Homo sapiens: one gene and its partner. The protein of the gene in region 2 purifies or fractionates together with the protein of the main gene of each other region. This does not show direct contact. Each region holds a gene or a part of one and is shown on either strand. Other genes may lie near its edges.

Evidence for each region.
Region 1: the proteins of UTP6 (region 2) and UXS1 purify together in Homo sapiens (co-immunoprecipitation; one large-scale study listed by IntAct). This does not show direct contact.

What each region holds. Positions count from the first base shown.
Region 1 is NC_000002.12:106,121,017-106,124,836, forward strand, and holds part of UXS1 (UDP-glucuronic acid decarboxylase 1), read right to left. Parts: intron 2,076-3,820; coding exon 1,954-2,075; intron 1-1,953. UniProt on the Homo sapiens protein: Catalyzes the NAD-dependent decarboxylation of UDP-glucuronic acid to UDP-xylose. Necessary for the biosynthesis of the core tetrasaccharide in glycosaminoglycan biosynthesis.
Region 2 is NC_000017.11:31,891,659-31,895,478, forward strand, and holds part of UTP6 (U3 small nucleolar RNA-associated protein 6 homolog), read right to left. Parts: intron 3,354-3,820; coding exon 3,312-3,353; intron 3,080-3,311; coding exon 2,987-3,079; intron 1,137-2,986; coding exon 1,089-1,136; intron 666-1,088; coding exon 602-665; intron 1-601. UniProt on the Homo sapiens protein: Part of the small subunit (SSU) processome, first precursor of the small eukaryotic ribosomal subunit.

The DNA of each region.
Region 1 (3,820 bases), on a different chromosome or scaffold from region 2:
AGGAATTTAAATGCTGATGTTCCAGAGTTACTAGGTGCTACCTTCCGGAACCCCCAGGCACAGATGACACGAACGGGTCCAATGTTAGCATTTGTGTGAAATGCAGATCCTGGCTGGAGCCCAGGCCCCTAGAACAGTACCTAGCATACAGTCGGTGCTCAAGAAGTGCTGCTTCTATTATTGCCAAATACCTAGAACAGTACCTAGCATACAGTCGGTGCTCAAGAAGTGCTGCTTCTATTATTGCCAAATACCATAATTATCGCAAGCTTATACTTAAGGCAATAGGTATACCCATAAAGTTATCAACTACATTAGCCGAATAATCATTTAATGAAAACTAAAAGCTCAATCAAAATGTCCCATTTGTCCACCAGCTTTACCTATATAAAAATTCACTAGGTAAGAAATACAATCATAGGACTGAAAGCAAAAGAAAACAGTTGAGAATCATATCACTCCTGGAACACATTCTAGAATAAAATGCAATGATGTACCCCTGACACTCTAGTCAGTACTCCTAAGTACCCATGCACACAGAGTGGTCCTGTGTGTCTGGAAGATCATCTGAAACTTTTGAGTCAAGATATTCTGGGCCCCAAAATGATGAAAGTATGTTCCTACTAAAACTGATCGGCATTTCATAGAGGAAGTGGATAATGTAAGCCAACAGACTAAAGTCGCTTAGAAGGCAATTAGTTCTGCTTCTGGCCAAGAAATAAAGCAGAAAAGTTTAAATATAAACAATAGCATAAGGTTAATTTATGCATCTTTAATGCTGGCATTTCATTAAACACATGATGAGAAAGAGAGTCCTCGACATTCTCTCCTACCCCTCAGAGAGCCTACCTGGCTTTACATTGCCCTGTCCTCTGTGGTACCACGGGAAGGGAAGTCGATTAAACTCTCATCCCAAGGTCAGGAACAGGAGACCTGGCCCTTGGCACATGCTTGACTGGGGCTCTGCCGGGGCCTGAGACAGACAGTCAGGAAAACTCCTGGATGCTGGCCATGCTGATGACACTTGCCCCTCCTACAGAGCACATAGCCGACAGTTCCCCAGGCTCACCTGCAGACTGGGCCCTGGGCCTGACAGCATTGCTCCCAGAAACAGACACTGCATCTACCAACAGCCTGTCCTGGACCAACGTTCCACAGCCATGTTGATTTACCTGCATGTCCCACTATACCAGAGGGCATTTTCATGAGGATGTGAAAATTCAGACCCAAGCCCAAGGACACACTCAGTGAGAACATGAATGGGATATCCTGTGCCCAGGCCTCCACCTTCTCTGCACAGTTCATTGGCTCCTGCACCACCCTGAGATGGGCAGGGCAGGCTTCACAAACCCTGTGTCAGAGATAAGAACTGAGAGAATGACGGCTTAAATCTTGGAGTCACACAGCAGCACAGCCAGTGTGGCAACCTCGGCCTCTTGGTCTGTGAGCAATTTCTGCTATAACATGCAGGTGACCAAATCTGTCACATAAAATATCATCAGCACAACAATGACTAATGAAGAAAGCATGAAATAACAGTAAATAAATATCAATAACAATAAAGAGGTTCAAATTACAGCAATAACGCATCCATTTTTTTACTTAATTGATAGAAAAGTAAAAAAAGAAGATCCATTGATTTGGAGGCTTCAGGAAAAGAGGTACTTCTTAGCTGCTGGTGAGCAACTGGCAATGAAGAAGCATTCTGTTCATAGCCATAAAATAGTATTCCAAACCCAAGAATTGATCTCTAGGAAATCATTTTTAAAATAAGGAGATACATGGAAAAAGCTGTTGATAATACCATTAATTTATAATACTGGGAAACTGAGCTTCCCAAACACCTATCCCCAGACAAAATCAGTCATGGCATTCATTCCTTTACAACACTTTACATCTGAGGTCAGGGTGCTCAGCACGCCTAAACCGCAAGCCTAGACCCTGGTGAAATACCTGCTTCATGTAGGCATAGCACATGGTCTCTGCAACACGTTTGCCTTCATCGTAGCAGGCCCGAGGTCCTATTGGATTCACGTGGCCCCAGTAATCCTCACTTTGAGGGTGGACTTCAGGATCTACGATGGGAGAAAAGTGAGACTGTTTTCATCTTTCCTTTTTCCAGTTCATATCAATAATGCATATTTATGATGCAAAAGGGAACTTCGGAAAGACCCATTTAGAGATGGAGAGATGTATTAAAGAGGCAACCTCAGGTTTCCAGTCCATTCTCTTGAGTTCCAGTAGGATATGATATTAAGCAATGACAATATTTTACTTACAGGGGAAAAAAAAAAAGAAAAAGATCAGGTCTCCCAATTTTAAGTCTTCCCTCTCTTCCGTAAATTGTTCTTAACTTTCAGAGTGCTACACAAATTACAATTAAATAGAATCTATGTGAAGAGATATGTGGTTTTGTTTTATATTTATAAAGTTGATAACTGGAGCAAATCATGTATTTATTGAAAAAAAATGAAAAACGCAGCATCTCTGGAACATGATGACTTTGACATGTGCCATCAGCAGAACAAATCTGGGACCCGTGACAAGTCAACGTGGAGGCTCCTGTAGGGCAGGTGGAGGGACGGGGTGCCCCTGGCAAATGGGTGCCTGTTCTTCTAGCCCTCATTTTACACTCCCAATTCCTGTTTCTCTAGCGTATAAATCAATCACACTTTAAGACATACCAGGGGAAGAGACTATTGGAAGAAAACACGTAACAAATTCTTTTATTCACACAAGTATATTTCTGGAATATGAATATACACCTAATTTATTTAGTACACCAAGAATTTTATACATACTTGAGTACAACTATGATATAAAATGTATAAGTCTTTGCCACGAAATCTGGACAAAAAGATGCATTGTTATAAATTCCCATCTTGTTTATCTTACCCCTGAAGTCTGACTTGGGACTCAGTGGGCCTGAGCAGGTGCAGGGAGGTAAACAGACAGGTATCCTGCCACTTGTCTGCTCAGCCGATCCCTCTGGGTCAGCACAGCCTCCGCAGCAATGCAGAAGTGTGCTGCAAAGAAAGGTCTATGTATCTGCTGCTGTGGTTTAAAATTCCCTTTCAAAGAGCAAACTTCTCACTACTCAGTGAGAGAAAAGTTCTAAGGAAAATACTTCCTGAGAGAAAGGAACCATTGACTTAAATTCACAGAATGTACCAGATGATTGATCCCAGACCTTTTTCTGGGGATCTTTAACAAGAGCTGGGCAAGCTACCCTCCAAAAAAGATGGTCATAAATTTGACAAAGGACAAGAAAGAAAAGGCTGGGTACGCCCATCTGTCCCTGGACTGGCACCGTCTGGACTGAAATGCCCAGGATGCCAAGCTTCTAAATAAGTCCCCTCACAAAATCACCGTGGAATAAAACAGGGACAGCTTACATTGTTAATACAAAAGTAAAGACCTAGAGTCAAAAATAATTTCCAATCATCTCCCCTTTCCAGCATTCTGTGAGGCTAAGACACTAAGCAAATACTCCACAAAAGTTTACTTTGGTTATTCAAGGTCAGAGGAGAGCACCTGGTGACTTCCATAAATTACACTCTCCAATTATTTAGGAAGCCTAAGGAACACAGGCTCCTGTCAGACATGCAGATAATAAATGAGATGAGTAGGGGAAGCAGGATGGCTGTGGGAAAGATGTCACTGTTCCCCTCTGGACAGATACCATACCCCATAGGTAGGGAGGGACACACTCTGCTCTTTTATTAATAACTGCCCAGGACTTCAAAAAAGTAGACAATGAACTACCTTTTCATAGAGATTACAAAGAATATCACTGCATTTAGAAGAATTTCTCTGTTGC
Region 2 (3,820 bases):
CAGATTTGACTGCCTCCAAATAAAATGTCCCACAAAGGATTCAAAAGTTTATTTTGCCATCATCTAAAAAGAAATACAGTCTGGCCGGGAGTGGTGGCTCACGCCTGTAATCCCAGCACTTTGGAAGGCCAAGGCGGGTGGATCACGAGGTCAGGGGTTCGAGAGACCAGCCTGACCAACGTGGTAAAACCCAGTCTCTACTAAAAATACAAAAATTAGCTGGGCGTGGTGGCGGGCACCTGTAATCCCACCTACTCAGGAGGCTAAGGCAGGAGAATTGCTTCAACCTGGGAGGCGGAGGTTGCAGTGAGCCAAGATCACACCACTGCCCTCCAGCCTGGGCGACAGAGCGAGACTCCGTCTCAAAAAAAAAAGAAATACAGTCCTTCTTGCCTGCAGATACAACACCTAGGACAGTAACTAGTATATAGTAGGCAGGGGTGAACTATGAGGCAGCTATTCAGTAAGAAAAACTGCTGAGGCCAACTGCCTAAGCTCAAGTCCTCAAAATAATTTCTCTTAGATTCATCAATCGAAATAAAATCCAAAATGGCTTGAGTCTAAATAAAACATAGAAAAATTGACAAAGATTTCACCATACCTGGTTTGTTGGAATGAATCGCCAACATGGCAGAGAATACCTTGCTAAGTCGAGTTTTAGTAGCCTGTAAAAAAGGAAAATATTTCTACTTCCTGCACAGATAAATCATTGATCTTACTCTCTAAGTAATATGTACCCTAACTTTACCAACTGTAAAATCCAATGGAGCATGACATGCTATTGCTAGGGATATATAAACGAACACAGACCCTCAAAATTTTCTACCTCAATTAAACCACTAAACACTTTAAATATCTTTTTAAAAAGTCAACTGTATTGAACAAACACACGTAAAAATTATATTCTTTTCAATTGAATTGGAAACCATAGTCATTCAGATATCCAATGTTATATTGATGTTCCGCCTTCTTGGGTTCTTTTTTCATGTTAACCCTACACTTCAGGAAAAAACATCTGGCATGAAGCTTAAAGGGCAGATTAACAAAAAGACGGTCAGAGGAAGCAAGACATGCATGGCTTTACTCACCCACTTCTTACAAAAAGCCACATAGGAGAGCCAAAGTTGAACATCGTCCTGCAAGAAAAGCAATGTAGTAAGCTGCCCAAATTTGACCTTTACATATAATACACCTTTGCATTAATTAATTTTGCTAAAAACAAGCAAATTTCAGGTTGGATGCGGTGGCTCACACCTGTAATCCCACCACTTTGTGAAGCCGAAGCGGGCGGATCACTTGAGGTCAGGAGATTGAAACCAGCCTGGCCAACATGGTGAAACCCCACCTAACCTAAAATTACAAAGATTATTGGGAGGCCAAGGCGGATTGATCACTTGAGGTCAGGAGTTCAAAACCAGCCTGTCAAATATGGTGAAACCCCGTCTCTACTAAAAATACAAAAAAATTAGCCGGACTTGGTGGCAGACCCCTGTAATCCCAGCTACTCAGGAAGTTGAGACAGGAGAATCGCTTGAAGCCGGGAGGCCGAGATCGGGCCACTGCACTCCAGCCTGGGCAACATAGGGAAGCTCCAACTCAAAAAAACAAACAAAAAAAATTAGCCAGGTGTGGTGGTATGTGCCTGTAATCCCAGCTACTAGGGAGGCTGAGGCAGAAGAATCACTTGAACCTAGGAGGCGAAGGTTGCAGTGAGCTGCCGAGATTGTGTGCCACTGCACTCTAACCTGGGTGACAGAGCAAGACTCCACCTCAAAAAAAAAAAAAAAAAAAAGCCAGGCACAATGGCTCAGGCCTGTAATCCCAGCACTTTTGGAGGCTGAGGCAGGTGGATCACCTGAGGTCAGGAGTTTGAGACCAGCCTGGCCAAGATGGTGAAACCCTGTCTACTAAAAATACAAAAATTAGCCAGGCGCGGTGGTGCGTGCCTGAAGTCCCAGGTACTGGGGAGGCTGAGGCAGGAAAATTGCTTCAATCTGGGAGGCAGAGGTTGCAGTGAGCCAAGATCACACCACTGCACTCTAGCCTGGGCAACAGAGCAAAACTCCATCCCCCACCAAAAAAAAAAAAAAAAAAAAAGAAGCAGATTTCAGAAAATCCAGTCACCTCTCATCCTATCTGGCTCTTCCTCACAAAGGCCTCCGATCTCTTAACTATGATAATTCAACCTTTCCCCCAACTCCCACTCACAATGCTCCAAAAAAACTTTGTTATCTATCCAGTTGGTTTAATGCAGTTCTTAAAGAATCTCAATCTGGGGTAGCAATATAAAATTTGTCATTACCAAGAATCCAAAATACTTCTCATATAATATACCCAATCCCAAACACTCCCGTAATCCCAGCACTTTGGGAGGCTGAGGTGGGCAGATCACTTGAGCCCAGGAGTTCGAGACCAGCCTAAAAAACATGACGAAACCCTATGTCTACCAAAAATACAAAAATTAGCCAGGCACGGTGGCATGCGCCTGTGATCCCAGCTACTGGGGAGGCTGAGGTGGGAGAATCATTTGAGCCTGGGAGGCAGAGGTTACAGTGAACCGAGATCACCCTACTGTACTCTAGTCTGGGCAACACAGTGAGACCTTATCTCAAAAAAAAAAAAAAAAGAAAAAAAAAAAAATCAAGTTTCTGAGGTATTGCCCCTACATAACCATTTATTTTCTAGCTCTAAGTCTTCAGTGTACTTACAAATATATACAAATATCTCCCAAATTTCCAATCCTTAGTAATGTATCAAATACACTGTTTTCAGCACTGTCCTCATAGAATAACTATAAGGTAATAAGATCAATTTTCTTACTGGTTTGTTAAGTGGCTCAAAAAATGTTTTGAGTAATGATACCATCATTAGAGTAAGTATAAAGATACCCAAGATAAAAATAGAAAACTGCATTTGAATCCCTAATACAATATGTATAATACTTATCTTCACATCTCATAAAGTTAAGGATGCCTTGATCACTCACTTTCCATTTTGCTGAGGCACGCTGGAAAACACCTTGTACCCGGTGTACAATAGAATTCTCAATCTCATCCTTCTTAAATGAATATCCAATGCGCTAAAGGGGGACATAAAAAAACAGAGCCTCAACTTAATCATATTTGTCCAAAACAGCATTCCTACTTGACCACTTAATGGTACTGATGAAGCAAACAAATAATTACAAATATCCATTATAGGCATATCACCACAGTTTTATCAACACTGTCTCCCAAACACAAGTCCTAACTATACAGCCATACTGCTTAGTTCTGTATTTTTCTCCAACTTCTAGAAAATCTTCTACTTACTGTTCTTCTTCTCTGGATCAGCTCCAAAAGATTAATTTCATACTATGAAAGAAAAACATACAAAAAAATGAGAAGCTAGAAAATCTAAAACCTTTTAAATACTGGAAATTTAGTTAAAGTCATAAAACAAAAATCGAGAATATAAAATAAAAAATAATGTGCTATCACATAATTTACAATAAATGTCTAGAACTCACTTAAAATTCACTTAGCTATAAAACTTAAACAGAATTAACAAGCTTATAATTACATGCTTCACTTAAAAATTATTCCATGAAATATTTCAAGCATATAAAACACCCCATGCAGCTACAATGCAGCTACACCAAACCTACATTGCACTACATTTGCTTCAAATCTTTTTTAGAAATAAAACAGTTCGTATAAAAATGAAGCTACCTATGTACCTATCTCTGATTCTACTCTTCTCCCTCTCCAGAGGCAGCAATTACCTTGACTTTGTTATCATTCCCAAACATGACTTTGGACTTTATTATAATGATGTCTTG